2 separate regions of the Homo sapiens genome follow, and region 2 is linked to region 1. Evidence: fine-mapped expression QTL. Tissue or cell type: testis. Region 1 holds a variant in brackets; the other region holds the start of a gene. All regions are shown on one strand. Distances are between the middles of the regions. Region 1 has its middle 26 kb from the start of OLFML3. Region 2 holds the start of OLFML3 (olfactomedin like 3).

The links.
Region 2: OLFML3 starts here. The variant in region 1 is fine-mapped to the expression of OLFML3 in testis (GTEx, PIP 0.98).

Annotation. Positions count from the first base shown.
Region 1 is chr1:114,000,678-114,009,610 of GRCh38, forward strand. It overlaps the pseudogene RPL13AP10. Among named protein-coding and RNA genes, the nearest start is that of OLFML3, 26 kb to the left of the region's middle. The variant G/C (reference allele first, on the strand shown) is at 3,427.
Region 2 is chr1:113,974,560-113,983,492 of GRCh38, forward strand. OLFML3 (olfactomedin like 3) reads left to right here and starts at 4,915. Exons shown (of 3, transcript NM_020190.5): 1 at 4,915-5,071; 2 at 5,773-6,058; 3 at 6,390-7,694. The coding sequence starts at 4,958. The coding sequence ends at 7,210. It overlaps HIPK1 (homeodomain interacting protein kinase 1), which reads left to right. Exons shown (of 16, transcript NM_198268.3): 16 at 1-3,310. RefSeq lists enhancers at 2,276-2,853, 4,159-4,992, 6,660-7,492, 8,748-8,933.

The DNA of each region.
Region 1 (8,933 bases):
AGGTGCACAGAACCCTGCACTTAGAAGGGGTTGAGCTTAGTTTAATGTTCTGCTGTTGCTGTCTTGAAATTCTTAATTTTTGAAAAAGGAACTCCTTATTTCCATTTTGCACAGGGCCTGGGAATTATGTAGCCGGCCCTGACAGTTGATTTTTCATTGTCAATGGCTCTGTCTTGCGTTCATCTGCCCTTTCCCAACTCTGACCTTTTCTCAGGGGCAAAGTGATGTTTGCTCTAAAAGCATACATATCATGTAAAAGTATGTGTCTGTCTTTTAGGAAGACAATTTATTGCTTTTTATACCCTATTTAGAGAAGTAATACAGGTAAATTATAGGAAATCTGAAAAGTACGAAGAAGAAAAAAATTATCCATATACCCACCACACAATGATGTAGCTTTCTAGACTTTTAATACATACTTCTGTTTTGTTCTGGCTTTACATCATTGGAAATATCAGAAATAATGTTTGGGAAAATGCTTTTTAAAGATTACTAACATAGCATGAGAATTTCCCCCATATCATAATTTTTTCTTCAAAAGTTTTTTTGTTGTTAGCTACATAGCATTCCACTACACAAAAATGCCATCATTAACTCAAATGATCCCTTCTTTTTGGGCCATTTATGTTTACTACAAATAACACTGTAAAGATAACACTTATATACGTTAGAAAACCAAAAAAAAAAGATGATTTGTTTAGTTGTTTATTTATTTTATTATTTATTTTTGGGGGAATAAGCAGTGTTTATTGGGCTCAGACCAGGAGTCCATGGGTCTTGAGGACCTCTGCGTATCTGTCAGTTTTCTCCATGTTCTTTGCTGCCTGTTTCTGTGGCCTTAAGAGCTGCTTTTCCTTCCCTGAGTAAATCCTGGCCTTTTCCTTCCTCTCCTCCTGCAGGTGGCTGTCACTGCCTGCTACTTCTAGCCAGCTTCGTGAGTCAGGCACCCCAGGCAGGCAAACTTTCTTGTAGGCTTCAGACATACCACCTGGAGGGCCGCAGAAACAACCTTCAGCTGTTTCTTGTCGCAGGGCCGTGGGATCCCAGCACACACCTTGAGGCGGTCCTGGGAGGCTTGGCCTCGCGCGGTCCAAACCAGGTATATGGGGGCCCAGGAAGGGTGGGGGTCCGGGAAGGGTTGGTGTTCATCCACCTGTGGAGGAAGGCCAGGTACTTCACCTGGTTTCTGTAGAAATTGCCAGAAATGGGCCAACATAGTGAAACCCTGTCTCTACTAAAAATACAAAAATTAGCTGGGCGTGGTGGTGCGTGCCTGTAGTCTCAGCTACTCGGGAGGTTGAGGCAGGAGAATTGCTTGAACCTGGGAGGTGGAGGTTGCAGTGAGCCGAGGTTGTGCCACCGCACTCCAGCCTGGGTGACAGAGCGAAACTCCGTCTCAAAAAAAAAAAAAAAAAAAAAGAAAAGAAAAGAAATTGCCAGAAATTCTGATGCCCTCGCTGTGCACGACCCCCACCCTCCGGCCCAGCAGTGCCTGCTTAGCCACGATGGCCCCCGCGTCCCCAGAGGTGGCCTCGGCCTCAAGCACCAGGACCTGCCCCTCACCCCTACGCCATCTTCGATAGCCGCTTGGGGAAACAAAACAGATTATGCTGGGCGGGTTGAATTCCTAGAAGTAAGACCTTAGACATACATTGCCAATTGCCCTCTGGAAAACCCTTCCAATTTACAGTGGCTACGGAAGGAAGCAAGTGGGCGAAGGAGACGTGGAGGAAAAGGAGTTCTGCTTGGTGCTTTGGGCTCTGTGGGCAACAGCCGACTTTCTCTCTCTTTCAGTACTGGTTGGGGTGCACTGCAGTGATTTAGAGCAGAACTCGCTCTTCCACAATCCAAAATTCTTTCCTGGAAGTGGCGTGTCCCTGGCGCTCTCCTGTCCCCACCAGCGCTGAGGCGGGTGGGAGCTCCCAGGAGCGGCTTCACATTCAGTCGCTGCAGGATCACAGCACTGATGCCCCTGCAAAGCTGCCACTGGGAACATTTTAGTGTGCTGGGCTTGGTTTAATGTCACCGTGCTCTTTCCAAAGTCTCCTGAGGGGAGAAGAATAGCATTCCAAGCGTGATAGTTTCTAGTGAGGGTCTCTAATGAGGAAAGAGAGCTGCAGAGGAGGCGCTTGCTCCTGGGCAGCTGCTGCTGTCTCCCAGATTCATTCTGAATGTCCACGATCCCTGCGTTCACAGAACGAGTCTGCTAGTGGCTGTCATGATCATTTAGGCTTTTATTTAGGCTTTGTGAGGGGGGATGTGACCAGTTGGTCTGTTTACTACGGAGGCCTTGGCCTGTCTCTGTGGGAGGAGCTACCATATGCTGCTGGTGGGGCAGGAGCTCTTCACATCTCTTTGAAACGCAAGTTGCAAAATCTCTGCATGTTTCTACTCTGGGTCTGTGGCCAGGGTGACTCCCAGAGACTGGCTTGTGCTAGTGGGGAGAGGAGAGGGGAGGAGTGTGTTGGGGGAGGCTGGGTTGAGAAGTGACATTTACAGACCAGCTGTGCAGCAGACCCCAAGGGATCCTCAGCCCCTGCAAGGCTTCCTTTGACCCTGTGGGTCTGGGGCAGGGAAGGAGGAGGGCCAGGGGTTCTCTTTACATTTAGCTGCCCCGGTTCTTCTTTGCTTTGGATGACCTTCTCTTGATGTGGTGAATTTCCCATCTGCTAGAGATACACAATTTCTGACTTCCACCGTTTTCCTTGAACTTCTTTCTGCCTCTGCTCATGAGCCCTCTTCTTGCTACAGTCCCACTCCCCTCCATCATATGCAAGGCACTGCTGGCTCCAGGGCTCGTGTGGGAGGTCTCGCACACACACAGGTTGGACCCACACCGGGCTAGAGCCACCAGGGACAAACCACTGGCCTTTTGGCTCCTCCTCACATGTTCCCCTCCCACTTCCCCTACCCCAATCCCCATGGGAAGAACAAAAATCTCTGGTCTCTGCAGCCCACTGTGAAGAATGTCATCTGAAGGGAAGCCACACTGCCAGCAAAGGAAGTGGCCTCCTGCCTTCCCCCGCCTATGGTTCTGCCCCAAGTCCACTTAGTAAACAAAAACTTCTTAGATTGGAGTCTGTGGATGCAGTCTTATGTTCTGCTAGTTCTCCAAGCATTGCTGGAATTTCGACTTTTCAATTTTATGATAAGCTTTACAGAAACTCATACCATTTATAAAGACAAAACTGAAGTCTGTGTTTTTGCATATATGTTTCCTGGGATCCTATGAAAATTTTTCTCCTTTAAAAGGGACTGAATTTTAGACAAGTTTGAGAAATACTGCACAGTGCCTCCAATGATAACAACAGCCTTTGTTGAGCCCGTAATCAATGGTAAACCCTGTGCAGCGGCTCCTTTCGCTCCTCCAGTAGCTAGGCATCCCCTTTTTCCAAAAAAAGGAGAGCAAAGCTAAGAGACAAAATG[G/C]CTGGCCGGTGCCACACAGGCCAGGAGGCCAAGATACAAATGCCAGTCTGATACCAAAGCCCATACTCTTAATTTTATGAGGCTCTCCCTGTGGGAGGCATTGTTCTAGGCAGTGCAGGGATGAGAGTGGAATGTGGTTGTAAAAATTAACTCCAATATTCCTGGTCAGTTAGTTTGTAACCCACGAGAGGATATAACACATATATACATGTAACTAATAAAGATTGGACTGTGACTACTGCTAGAAACCAAGTGCTAGGAAGTGCCTAGGAACAGATGAAAAGGCAAGTTTTAGCTTAATGGATTGGGTTCGAAGAGGGTAGGATCACTCATTTTTAAACCAACGTTTGATTGAGCTTCTATTTGGTGCAAGGAATTGTGCTGAGCACTGTCCTGCCTTCAAAGAGCTCTACTAGGGCAGACAGATGAATGAATGGACAATGACATATGCACAGGATGGGGAACCTCCTGGCGGGGGATGTTCTCCTCTCCACCTCAGGCTGGTTAGGGAAGCACTTGAGCAGTAGCAGAGAGGGAAGGTGTATTAGTTCATTCTCGCATTGCTATAAAGAAATACCTAAGGCTGGGTATGTACAAAGAAAAGAGGTTTAATTGGCTCACAGTTCTGCAGGCTGTACAGGAAGCATGGCACTGGCATCTGCTCAGCTTCACGTGAGGCCTCGGGAAGCTTTCAATCATGGCAGAAGGCAAAGGGGGAGCCGGCATCTTACATGGCAAGAATGGGAACAAGAGAAAGTGTGAAGTGGGGAGGTGCCGCATACTTTTAAACAACCAGATCTTGTGTGAACTCACTCCTCACCAAGGGGACGGTGTTAAGCCATTCATGAGGGATCTGACCCCGTGATCCAAACACCTTCTACCAGGCCCCACTTCCAACACTGGGAATTACATTTCAACATGAGATTTACCGGGGACACAGATCCAAACCATATCAGAGGGGAAAGGGGATGTATGCTGAGTGCAGAGGAAACAGCTGGAACAAAAAGGGAGTGAGAGGCTGTGGGCCGCACAGGGAATTAGAATCAGTCCTCCATTACCCAGGGCAGGGGGCGTTGCTTGGGTAGTGGCTGTAGAAAAGTGAAGGAGATAGGCCTAAGTGCAAATCACAAAGTTTTGAAGCTTTAACAGGGAAATAGGCAGTTTCTGGCAACCTGTTGAAGGTGTTAAGAATAGGAATTATAAAAAGTTAACAGGCTGGGCAGACACCTGAGGGAGGCCAGATAGGAGACTCTTGCAGTAATGCAGGTGAGAAATGGGGAGATCTTAGTTACGGCTTCTTATTGCACTCATGGTAAAGGCCCAGAGCCATTCCAAGGACCTATCAGGCCCCACACAGGCTGACCCGTTATCTCCAGCTAGTCTTCTCTGGTTCAGCCACACTGATCCTTAAACAAGCCAGCCATGTCGACCTCAGGGCCTTTGTGCCTCTCTCTGGAATGTCTCCTTTCCAGGGAAGCCTTCCTAGCCATTTTATTTAAAGTAGTCCCCTACCCTCAACTCCCTGTTCCATTTCCATGTTGTAGTTTTCTCCATCTACCTCACTATAGCTTTTACTTCTTTGTTTATTTTCTGTCTCCTTCCAGTAGAATGGAAACCCCTTGAGGGCAGGTATGTGTCTGTCTTGCTCACTGCTGTCTCACCAGGTGCCTTCAGCCTGGCACATAGTAGGTACCTATAAATATTGGCTAAATGAGTGAATTATTGAATTTCATAGGTGAAAGAAAAAATCCACAAAGGCAGGGGTAGTAGCAGTGGGGTTGAGAACAGTGAAGAGGTAGGGAGAAATTTAGGAGGGATTGTGGATGACAGGACCTGGGATTGCTGAATGTGGGGGGAAGGGAGAGAGGAGTAAAGGGCTACTCTTAGGTGTCTGAGCTCCAGCATAGGGTCAGTGGGGGGCCATTTCAGCAGCTAGGAGACTGGTTTGAACTATGTCCGGCTGGGTGTGGTGTCTGTTGCATGTAATCCCAGCACTTTGGGAGGCTGAGGTAGAAGCATTGTTTGAGCTCAGGAGTTCAAAGCCAGCCTGGGCAACATAGTGAGACTCCATCTCTAGTTAAAAAAAAATAGCCAGGCATGGTGATATGCACCTGTAGTCCCAGCTACTCAGGAGGCTGATGTGGGAGGATTGCTTGAGCTTAAGAGATTGACACTGCAGTGAGCTATGATTGTACCACAGCACTCCAACCTAAGTGAGACCAGGATCGAAAAAAAAAAAAAAAAAGTGAGATCCTGTCTCAACAAAACCAAAAACAAAAAAAACAAACTATGTCTGGAGGATCCCTGGGAATTTCCTGGAGCCACTTTGGGGAACCATCAAAGGGAAGAAGGGTTGAGCTGAGGAACAAGGCTCCAGTCAGAGAAAATCAGTATTTATTTTGTTTTTGATTTTCTTGTTTTGGTTTGGTTTAATTTTTAAGTCACTGAGATCAGAAATTATAATAACTTATAGTTATTGTGTTCTTACAATGTTCTGGATATTAGGCTAAGCATTTAAAACTAGATCTTCTCATTTCCTCTTTATGACAATTCTATAAGGGTGACACTATTATCCTCTTTCTACAGCCCAGGAAACTGAGGCAGAAGAGAGATTAAGTGACTTTTCTAAGGTCACAGAATTAGTAAGTGAAGAGCAATGCAATTCCTGAATCCATAGTCTAAAGAGAGAAAATAGACAATGTATGGTCTGGTGGAGAACAGAGTATCACCCTTATTACTGATGATAGCAGTGTCACTCAGTTTTCACACTGCTATGAAGATACTACCTGAGACTGGGTAATTTATTAAAAAGGAGGTTTAATGGACTCACAGTTCTGCATGGCTGGGGAGGCCTCAGGAAACTTACAATCATGGCAGAAGGAGAAGGGGAGGCAAGGCACGTCTTACATGGCTGCTGGACAGAGACAGAGAGTGAAGGGGAAGTGCTACTTTTAAGACCGTAAGATCTCGCAAGAACTCACTATTACAAGAACAGGATAGGGGAAACCACCCCTATAATCCAATCACCTCCCACCAGGTCCCTCCCTCAACACCTGGGGATTACAATTCGAGATGAGATTTGGGTGGGGACACAGAGCCAAACCATATCAACAGCTGTCACATCTAGAGCAAATTGAGGTTGTTAATGTCCATTCCAGAAACCAAGGTGAACAGGCTCTCAGGGTTGGTGCCTGTCTGGTTTCCAGCCAGGTAGACTCCAGCAGGAGCACCCTGCTCAGGTCGGTCTTTCTGACAGGTAATGAAATGTCACAGCAGAAAGAAGAGCTCCCCGCCCCCCAAGGTGTGCATGAGGGTGTGCTCCTGTTGAAAGTGTGGTGCTGGGTGGGGAGAGTTACCGAAGATGGAGAACAGTGGCTTGAAACCAATAAAAACCAACTGCTGGGAGAAACACTCACCAGTTTCTGAAGATCTTAAACAAAGGACCTAAACTAGGAGATGGCAGACAAAATCATCAAAAAGAAATGTGTCCACTGGGGACTGTGGGGAGCCCCTGCCCCATCTGAAGGGCAGCTGCTGCCCTGGGCCAGCCAGTTTTTGCCACCAGGGGATGTGGGCTCAAGGTTGCTTCATTTTTCATTTTTTTTTAAAAGCCAGGAATCTGGATTTTTGCGCAAAATCATCTGACTTTTAAACGTTGCCGAAACTCCCAAAACCGTATGTGGTCCAAACCAGTAACCTCACAGGGCCCCATCTGGCCTGCACGCCGTGGTTTGTGTCCACTGACAAGGAATCTTAACCTCTTTGGGCCTTGGGAATCTGATGAAAATGTTCAGGCATTTTCTAGGAAAAAGAAATGCCTGAACAAACACATAATTTTGAGTATCATTTCTGGGTGTCTCTCTGCCCCCGGAATCATCCTTTTCTAAAGGCACACTTTGTAAAGGTAAGAGGGCTTCTGAGCAAACCTGAGGTCTGGGAAGGTACAAGCTGACAGGGGTATCTGGGTTTGTCCCACATCTGAATGAAACAGTGCTGTTTGTTGGAGTCAATATGTCCACATCTGTTTGCTTATGAGTCCTGCTTTGTACCCAACTTTCCTTGGCAGTCTTGGTTAATTCCCTCTGTATCAGTAAGGTTGCACAGGGGAGCAGGAAAGAGGCCCAAGAGGCCTGGATACTGGTCTGGAGGGGGCAGAAGAGCAGACATGAAGGCAGTGAGGGAGGCTGGATGTGGGGGGTGGGGGATGGGGGGGACTTTAGAGCTAGACTTTGAAGCGTTGATAGAACTAAAAAGAAGAAATAAATTATTTTTCTGATCTTGGACAAGGAGGAAGGACATGGATTTAAAGTTGGATGCCCTAAATGCCAAGACTGTCTGCATCTAGGACAGGTATTACATGCAAGAGGCTCTCCTTCCAGCCAAGCATGTGCCCTAGCTAAGCTCCTGCACTTTCACAGGAGGCTGACAGCCCATCTCCAGCCCAGCCTATTAAAGAATAAGGCTGCCCTTAATTGGTAACAGGGAGGAGCTGAACCCCATGTACTTGTCAGCATAACACTGAGCTCCCTGCAGCTCAAAATTTACCAAATGCTTGGTTGCAAAAAATAGCATTAATAGAGATAAAAGACATGCATTCCCACCGTTCCTCTAGATTCCATTAGTCTTATTCACAGATAAGTCAGACCTTCAGAGACTTGAACATATGGTTTTGGCCTCTGGCTGGCTAGCTCTATTGAACAAGGCTGAGCAGTTATGCCACTGGCCTCCCTCTTTATGTACTTATCATTAAGAGAATTAAGGATGAGGTTCAGTGTGTCAGGCAAATTTCCACTTTTTGAATACTTGCGTGGCAACCTCCCAGATAGCCCCCAGCAATCCTTGCGTGTTAGTAAGTCATGCCTTTGTGTAGTCACCTCCCATATAGAATAGGGCTGACCTGTGGAGCTATAAGATATACCAGACATGATGGAATGTGACTTCTCAATCTAGGTCATGAAAGGAATTGTGGCTTCCACTATGTCCTTTCCTATACTGCCCACTCAGGAGGAAGTCAGCTGCCATGTTGTGAAGACACTCAAACAGCACAATGGAGAGGTCCATGTGGTGAAGAACTGAGACCACCTGCTAACAGCCAGCAGTGTGAGCTCACTTGCCAGCTGTGTGAGTGAGCCATCTTAGAAGTACATCCTCCAGCTCCAACTGTTGTCAGCTTTTTTGGGATATCACTTTCATATCTCTAAATAACAAGCTTATATTGCTACTTTTTTCTGTTTTAGACATTGTCTATTTATTTTCCACTTTTCCATTTTTGTAGTGAGAAACAAAAATTACCACAAAACTTAGTAGGTTAAAACAATAAACATTTATTATCTCTCACAGTCACTTTCTTCATCTCCTCTCAATATATTATAGTGTAAATCTGATCAACATATATACTGATATACAGTCACATGCCACATAACAATGTTTTGGTCAGTGATGAACCACACAGACCACAGTGGTCCCATAAGATTGTAATGAAGCTGAAAAATTCCTATTGCCTAATG
Region 2 (8,933 bases), 26 kb before region 1:
CTGAAACCAGATAAGAACATTTCTTGTGTATAGCTTTTATACTTCAAAGTAGCTTCCTTTGTATGCCAGCAGCAAATTGAATGCTCTCTTATTAAGACTTATATAATAAGTGCATGTAGGAATTGCAAAAAATATTTTAAAAATTTATTACTGAATTTAAAAATATTTTAGAAGTTTTGTAATGGTGGTGTTTTAATATTTTACATAATTAAATATGTACATATTGATTAGAAAAATATAACAAGCAATTTTTCCTGCTAACCCAAAATGTTATTTGTAATCAAATGTGTAGTGATTACACTTGAATTGTGTACTTAGTGTGTATGTGATCCTCCAGTGTTATCCCGGAGATGGATTGATGTCTCCATTGTATTTAAACCAAAATGAACTGATACTTGTTGGAATGTATGTGAACTAATTGCAATTATATTAGAGCATATTACTGTAGTGCTGAATGAGCAGGGGCATTGCCTGCAAGGAGAGGAGACCCTTGGAATTGTTTTGCACAGGTGTGTCTGGTGAGGAGTTTTTCAGTGTGTGTCTCTTCCTTCCCTTTCTTCCTCCTTCCCTTATTGTAGTGCCTTATATGATAATGTAGTGGTTAATAGAGTTTACAGTGAGCTTGCCTTAGGATGGACCAGCAAGCCCCCGTGGACCCTAAGTTGTTCACCGGGATTTATCAGAACAGGATTAGTAGCTGTATTGTGTAATGCATTGTTCTCAGTTTCCCTGCCAACATTGAAAAATAAAAACAGCAGCTTTTCTCCTTTACCACCACCTCTACCCCTTTCCATTTTGGATTCTCGGCTGAGTTCTCACAGAAGCATTTTCCCCATGTGGCTCTCTCACTGTGCGTTGCTACCTTGCTTCTGTGAGAATTCAGGAAGCAGGTGAGAGGAGTCAAGCCAATATTAAATATGCATTCTTTTAAAGTATGTGCAATCACTTTTAGAATGAATTTTTTTTTCCTTTTCCCATGTGGCAGTCCTTCCTGCACATAGTTGACATTCCTAGTAAAATATTTGCTTGTTGAAAAAAACATGTTAACAGATGTGTTTATACCAAAGAGCCTGTTGTATTGCTTACCATGTCCCCATACTATGAGGAGAAGTTTTGTGGTGCCGCTGGTGACAAGGAACTCACAGAAAGGTTTCTTAGCTGGTGAAGAATATAGAGAAGGAACCAAAGCCTGTTGAGTCATTGAGGCTTTTGAGGTTTCTTTTTTAACAGCTTGTATAGTCTTGGGGCCCTTCAAGCTGTGAAATTGTCCTTGTACTCTCAGCTCCTGCATGGATCTGGGTCAAGTAGAAGGTACTGGGGATGGGGACATTCCTGCCCATAAAGGATTTGGGGAAAGAAGATTAATCCTAAAATACAGGTGTGTTCCATCTGAATTGAAAATGATATATTTGAGATATAATTTTAGGACTGGTTCTGTGTAGATAGAGATGGTGTCAAGGAGGTGCAGGATGGAGATGGGAGATTTCATGGAGCCTGGTCAGCCAGCTCTGTACCAGGTTGAACACCGAGGAGCTGTCAAAGTATTTGGAGTTTCTTCATTGTAAGGAGTAAGGGCTTCCAAGATGGGGCAGGTAGTCCGTACAGCCTACCAGGAACATGTTGTGTTTTCTTTATTTTTTAAAATCATTATATTGAGTTGTGTTTTCAGCACTATATTGGTCAAGATAGCCAAGCAGTTTGTATAATTTCTGTCACTAGTGTCATACAGTTTTCTGGTCAACATGTGTGATCTTTGTGTCTCCTTTTTGCCAAGCACATTCTGATTTTCTTGTTGGAACACAGGTCTAGTTTCTAAAGGACAAATTTTTTGTTCCTTGTCTTTTTTCTGTAAGGGACAAGATTTGTTGTTTTTGTAAGAAATGAGATGCAGGAAAGAAAACCAAATCCCATTCCTGCACCCCAGTCCAATAAGCAGATACCACTTAAGATAGGAGTCTAAACTCCACAGAAAAGGATAATACCAAGAGCTTGTATTGTTACCTTAGTCACTTGCCTAGCAGTGTGTGGCTTTAAAAACTAGAGATTTTTCAGTCTTAGTCTGCAAACTGGCATTTCCGATTTTCCAGCATAAAAATCCACCTGTGTCTGCTGAATGTGTATGTATGTGCTCACTGTGGCTTTAGATTCTGTCCCTGGGGTTAGCCCTGTTGGCCCTGACAGGAAGGGAGGAAGCCTGGTGAATTTAGTGAGCAGCTGGCCTGGGTCACAGTGACCTGACCTCAAACCAGCTTAAGGCTTTAAGTCCTCTCTCAGAACTTGGCATTTCCAACTTCTTCCTTTCCGGGTGAGAGAAGAAGCGGAGAAGGGTTCAGTGTAGCCACTCTGGGCTCATAGGGACACTTGGTCACTCCAGAGTTTTTAATAGCTCCCAGGAGGTGATATTATTTTCAGTGCTCAGCTGAAATACCAACCCCAGGAATAAGAACTCCATTTCAAACAGTTCTGGCCATTCTGAGCCTGCTTTTGTGATTGCTCATCCATTGTCCTCCACTAGAGGGGCTAAGCTTGACTGCCCTTAGCCAGGCAAGCACAGTAATGTGTGTTTTGTTCAGCATTATTATGCAAAAATTCACTAGTTGAGATGGTTTGTTTTAGGATAGGAAATGAAATTGCCTCTCAGTGACAGGAGTGGCCCGAGCCTGCTTCCTATTTTGATTTTTTTTTTTTTTAACTGATAGATGGTGCAGCATGTCTACATGGTTGTTTGTTGCTAAACTTTATATAATGTGTGGTTTCAATTCAGCTTGAAAAATAATCTCACTACATGTAGCAGTACATTATATGTACATTATATGTAATGTTAGTATTTCTGCTTTGAATCCTTGATATTGCAATGGAATTCCTACTTTATTAAATGTATTTGATATGCTAGTTATTGTGTGCGATTTAAACTTTTTTTGCTTTCTCCCTTTTTTTGGTTGTGCGCTTTCTTTTACAACAAGCCTCTAGAAACAGATAGTTTCTGAGAATTACTGAGCTATGTTTGTAATGCAGATGTACTTAGGGAGTATGTAAAATAATCATTTTAACAAAAGAAATAGATATTTAAAATTTAATACTAACTATGGGAAAAGGGTCCATTGTGTAAAACATAGTTTATCTTTGGATTCAATGTTTGTCTTTGGTTTTACAAAGTAGCTTGTATTTTCAGTATTTTCTACATAATATGGTAAAATGTAGAGCAATTGCAATGCATCAATAAAATGGGTAAATTTTCTGACTTATGTGGCTGTTTTTGACTTCTGTTATAGGATATAAAGGGGATCAATAAATGACATCTTTGAAAGTGGCTAAGCATATTGTATTTGAACATCAGTAGAGTACTAGAGACAATTTCATTCTTCACACAAATCTCCATACTGGAAATGAATAGGGTTTGGCAGGGAATACTTCCCAAGAATGCAGTGTCCAGGGTCCTTACTTCACATCATCTGGATCTGACCCTTTGAAAGAGGTAGAAGACTTCTGAGACCGGCTAATTAAGCTTTGTTTCCTCATATGTTTTGCCAGATAGCAGTAGCAGAATGAAAAGATGAGTAACCACAGGAAGCTGCTATTTTTCCCCTCCTTTCAAACTGTACTGTTAGAGTCATGGTCCTTTTTACAGAAGGAACCTCTCATCAGATTCTGTTGATTCTAAAGTGAATAGAATTTCTCCCGATAAAGAAATAGGGGTTTGTTTCGATTAATGACTGCAGGTCTCTGAGTAAATGCTCTATTTGATTTTTTTTTTCGGCCCGTGTGTCTACCTTATGGCCCAAGTCTACCTTATGGTGGCCATTAATTCATTTTGGGCTCCTGCAGCCTTAGTTGGGATATAGAAATGAGAAACACTCAGAAATACCCTTTTGGACCACAACCAAGAGAAATAACCAATAGTCTTTTCTCCCAGTGGTAAGGAAGTCAGAATACATTGATCTAGACTGCAACAACATATATATATATATCAGATTCCGCCCCCCCGCAATACATGAATGTATAGTAAATTAGTGTGAACTCACTGAACACTCCTCAGTTTTGGTGAGAGACTATATCTGGCCTCTTTCAAGCAAAGGAAAGCCATGTAAAACAGCGCTGCTGTCAGCCTTAACTTCCAGACGATCGAGTTAATTTACTAACTTCTCAGTGACCTGTTTTTTTTTTTTTTTTAATCTCAGTTATATTTTCTTCCTTGGGCTAAATCAGATATTTGCATAGCCCCCAAAGTAGTAATTGGATAGTCTTGGGGGAAATATGCATTTCAGTGGTGAAAACCCCTGTAAATTCAATATATTTGGCTTTTGTGGAAAATTTTCCTCATGGGGTGAAGTCTAAGCCTTAGTTTCTGTATTATCATGAGAGATGACACCAGCTGCTTAGCACAAGGTGGCGCCAATGAGCTTTAGAATAAGTTGGGCTTGACCACTTGGGCCATTGTTTTCCTGCTTCCTCCCTTCAAGCCTCACCTCCCCAGCTCCCAGCTTCTACTGAACAAGGCTGAAAACCCACTCTATTGCAGGGAAAGGGAAAGATTAATGAAAAATGTCAGTTTCTTAAGTCAGCACTGGTGAAACTTTCCTAAAACAGGAATGGCGTTTGCTGAGTTTTCTCTGGGGTCTCTGCTTTCTGCAGCTAGCTTCCCTGCTTGACTGCCTAGAAGGCCTCTGCTTTCGGGTTTCCATCTCTTTCCCCTCCAGAGGACCCTACAGCCTAGGCGGGAGGTGGTTAAGGCTTCTGGCTGCTGTGCAATGGGGCCATCTGTGTTTGATCAATCCTGGCGGAAAGGAGGGGGTGGGGGTTGTAAAGAGAACTGAAAGCATTCCAGAGTAGTGAGAGAGACCCAGAGATCAGGAGAGAAGGCACCGCCCCCACCCCGCCTCCAAAGCTAACCCTCGGGCTTGAGGGGAAGAGGCTGACTGTACGTTCCTTCTACTCTGGCACCACTCTCCAGGCTGCCATGGGGCCCAGCACCCCTCTCCTCATCTTGTTCCTTTTGTCATGGTCGGGACCCCTCCAAGGACAGCAGCACCACCTTGTGGAGTACATGGAACGCCGACTAGCTGCTTTAGAGGTGAGGGACCCCTTTCTCTTCTAGCCCCGCCTAGAAGGATTCCAGGGCTATTGGTTCAACCAGTTTGTTAGGGATCTGGGGATAACAAGAAAGGGCTCTGTTAGAGTCTACAGAAAATTCTCTCTTAATAAGAGGACCTTCGGAATGACAAGCCCTCCTCTTACCCCACATAGAACAATTCCAAAGCAAATCGACTTTTGCGTTTTACCTCTGGGATTAGATAGAATAAGGGGGCAGAGTGGAAACGAGAGCCAAAATTGTGGGGCTGCATCTCCAGAGAAGGTGATGATTCTGTTGAAGTTGGAGGTTCCCGGGGAATCTATAACTTCCTGTCTTTTTAACAGGTTGAGATCCGTAGCATTTTAGTGTCCGAGAGGATAATTGCTAAGGGAGCAGAGACCTCTTCACACCTTCATGCGCTTAGACCTGCCTAGAGGCTCAGATGGCTCAGTGGCACTGCTCACAGAGAACACAGGCTGGAGGACATGGAGTCGGGGTAGGGGCCTAGGTGAATCTCAGCTAGGCTCTTTGCACATTTAGCACCTCTGCACATCTGGTTTCCTTTTCTGCAGGAGTGGAAGGGGATATTGAAGCCTGGCTGAGTTTGCTCTTTTTTTCCCATTCCTGACTCCCGAGTTGGGCCTCTCCCTGCCTGGGAGTTGTAACCCTGCAGCCTCCCTCCTGATCCCCCATCCCTTCAGGAACGGCTGGCCCAGTGCCAGGACCAGAGTAGTCGGCATGCTGCTGAGCTGCGGGACTTCAAGAACAAGATGCTGCCACTGCTGGAGGTGGCAGAGAAGGAGCGGGAGGCACTCAGAACTGAGGCCGACACCATCTCCGGGAGAGTGGATCGTCTGGAGCGGGAGGTAGACTATCTGGAGACCCAGAACCCAGCTCTGCCCTGTGTAGAGTTTGATGAGAAGGTGACTGGAGGCCCTGGGACCAAAGGCAAGGGAAGAAGGAATGAGAAGTACGATATGGTGACAGGTAAATAATCTGAAAGCAGGCCCCTAACTCTTCTCAGAACCGATATTCTTCCTTCCTTGCTTCTTACTCTTTTTTTCGCTTTGTCCCAGTCCATTGTGGCTCTGTCTTCTGGAATCTGTTTTAGGGAAACCTCTGTAATGCCAGGTCTATTAAGGAGAGGTTCTGGGGATCCAGGCCGCTGTGGTACCCGCTCTTTCTCAATTCTCCCTAAGATTGGAGGCAACCACTGGGCAAATGCTCACTATTCTCCAGATCACCCACCCTGGGGGAGTTCCTGCTGGAGGCATCTAATTCTTGCCTCTATTTCCTTTTCCTGTGCTTTTCTCATCAGACTGTGGCTACACAATCTCTCAAGTGAGATCAATGAAGATTCTGAAGCGATTTGGTGGCCCAGCTGGTCTATGGACCAAGGATCCACTGGGGCAAACAGAGAAGATCTACGTGTTAGATGGGACACAGAATGACACAGCCTTTGTCTTCCCAAGGCTGCGTGACTTCACCCTTGCCATGGCTGCCCGGAAAGCTTCCCGAGTCCGGGTGCCCTTCCCCTGGGTAGGCACAGGGCAGCTGGTATATGGTGGCTTTCTTTATTTTGCTCGGAGGCCTCCTGGAAGACCTGGTGGAGGTGGTGAGATGGAGAACACTTTGCAGCTAATCAAATTCCACCTGGCAAACCGAACAGTGGTGGACAGCTCAGTATTCCCAGCAGAGGGGCTGATCCCCCCCTACGGCTTGACAGCAGACACCTACATCGACCTGGCAGCTGATGAGGAAGGTCTTTGGGCTGTCTATGCCACCCGGGAGGATGACAGGCACTTGTGTCTGGCCAAGTTAGATCCACAGACACTGGACACAGAGCAGCAGTGGGACACACCATGTCCCAGAGAGAATGCTGAGGCTGCCTTTGTCATCTGTGGGACCCTCTATGTCGTCTATAACACCCGTCCTGCCAGTCGGGCCCGCATCCAGTGCTCCTTTGATGCCAGCGGCACCCTGACCCCTGAACGGGCAGCACTCCCTTATTTTCCCCGCAGATATGGTGCCCATGCCAGCCTCCGCTATAACCCCCGAGAACGCCAGCTCTATGCCTGGGATGATGGCTACCAGATTGTCTATAAGCTGGAGATGAGGAAGAAAGAGGAGGAGGTTTGAGGAGCTAGCCTTGTTTTTTGCATCTTTCTCACTCCCATACATTTATATTATATCCCCACTAAATTTCTTGTTCCTCATTCTTCAAATGTGGGCCAGTTGTGGCTCAAATCCTCTATATTTTTAGCCAATGGCAATCAAATTCTTTCAGCTCCTTTGTTTCATACGGAACTCCAGATCCTGAGTAATCCTTTTAGAGCCCGAAGAGTCAAAACCCTCAATGTTCCCTCCTGCTCTCCTGCCCCATGTCAACAAATTTCAGGCTAAGGATGCCCCAGACCCAGGGCTCTAACCTTGTATGCGGGCAGGCCCAGGGAGCAGGCAGCAGTGTTCTTCCCCTCAGAGTGACTTGGGGAGGGAGAAATAGGAGGAGACGTCCAGCTCTGTCCTCTCTTCCTCACTCCTCCCTTCAGTGTCCTGAGGAACAGGACTTTCTCCACATTGTTTTGTATTGCAACATTTTGCATTAAAAGGAAAATCCACTGCTCCTCTCCTGTGTTTGTTTGGGGTAGCCCTCAGATCAAACTTCCCCCTGACCATCCAGTTTCTCCCTCCCAACCCATCCCCACTCCTTGAGCCATATTAAAGACTTGGGCGGGGCTCCCTTTGCTGAGGAAGAGTTTACTGTGAGGCGCCTGGGGGAGGTGGCAGAATCCCGCCACTTTAGGAGGCTGGACGAAAGGCCTCCTTCCACACCCACCGCCATCCACAGCAGCCAATCCACAGCAGCCATCCTAGAACCTCAGTGGCACCGTGCCTCTGGCTGTGAGACACTGGGGCCCAGGGCAGAGATTCCAGTTCCGATTCTCAGAGGATTTTGAACTACAAAATGCATGTTAGTTGCATTGCATTCTAGTGTGGAAACCAGAGCCCTGAATGCCTGTGTTTTTAGTAAGAACTGAAGTCTCCCCTCTAAAGTGGACTCTGCCCCGCACCCCAGACCTCCACTCCCACCTCCAGCGTTGTGCTCCTGCAGGGCCAGGTTGCACAATCATTCTTGGTCTGGACCGCTCTGATTTTCCTGCTGCCACGGCGTCTGCGGTTTGTGCAGGGAGGAGGGGCAGTGACCGTGTCCCAGATGTTGGCCTTACACGGTCTGCAGCCTATTCTTGCTTTCCTTTTCTCCACTCTCATCACCCTCACCTACCCACTCCAGCCCTGAACCTGGCTGAAGCCCGTCAGGACTTCTGGAAACTTAACCCTCTCTGGCCCATACCCTGGCCTCTGGCGTTGGATTGCAGAGCGTAATGTGGGGAAGAGGGAAGGGAGAAGGGAGAGGAGGAGGAAGGCTCCAGGCTTTGGACTCCAGTCTCCAGGAATCTGCTGATTTCTGCACCAGGCCCCCACCCCAGCCTCACCCTCACTGCTGCATGCTCAGCTCGCAGGGGCAAGGCTGGCTGATGGGCAGGATCCACTGCTTTCATGAGGAGTCCACCTCAGGCATGCCTGGGGGTCCTCTTGGTTATTTGCTCTAGCCAAGTGCGGGAAGGGGGCACAGCCTTCTCCCCAAAGCACAGCCCTCCTTCCCGCCCCAGGTGGGGTGGCTCAGTCAGGGCCCTGTGAGCCTCCCTTTATCTTCTTTTCTTTTCTCCTCAGGCAGAGCTGCTCCAGACGTAGGTTGATGAGGATGGGGAAAGAAAGACAGTGAAGCACCTCAGAAAGGCGCTATTATAGGGAGACCGGGGCGGGCAGGGGCTCTCTCCCATTGAATTCTCTCCTAATGTGG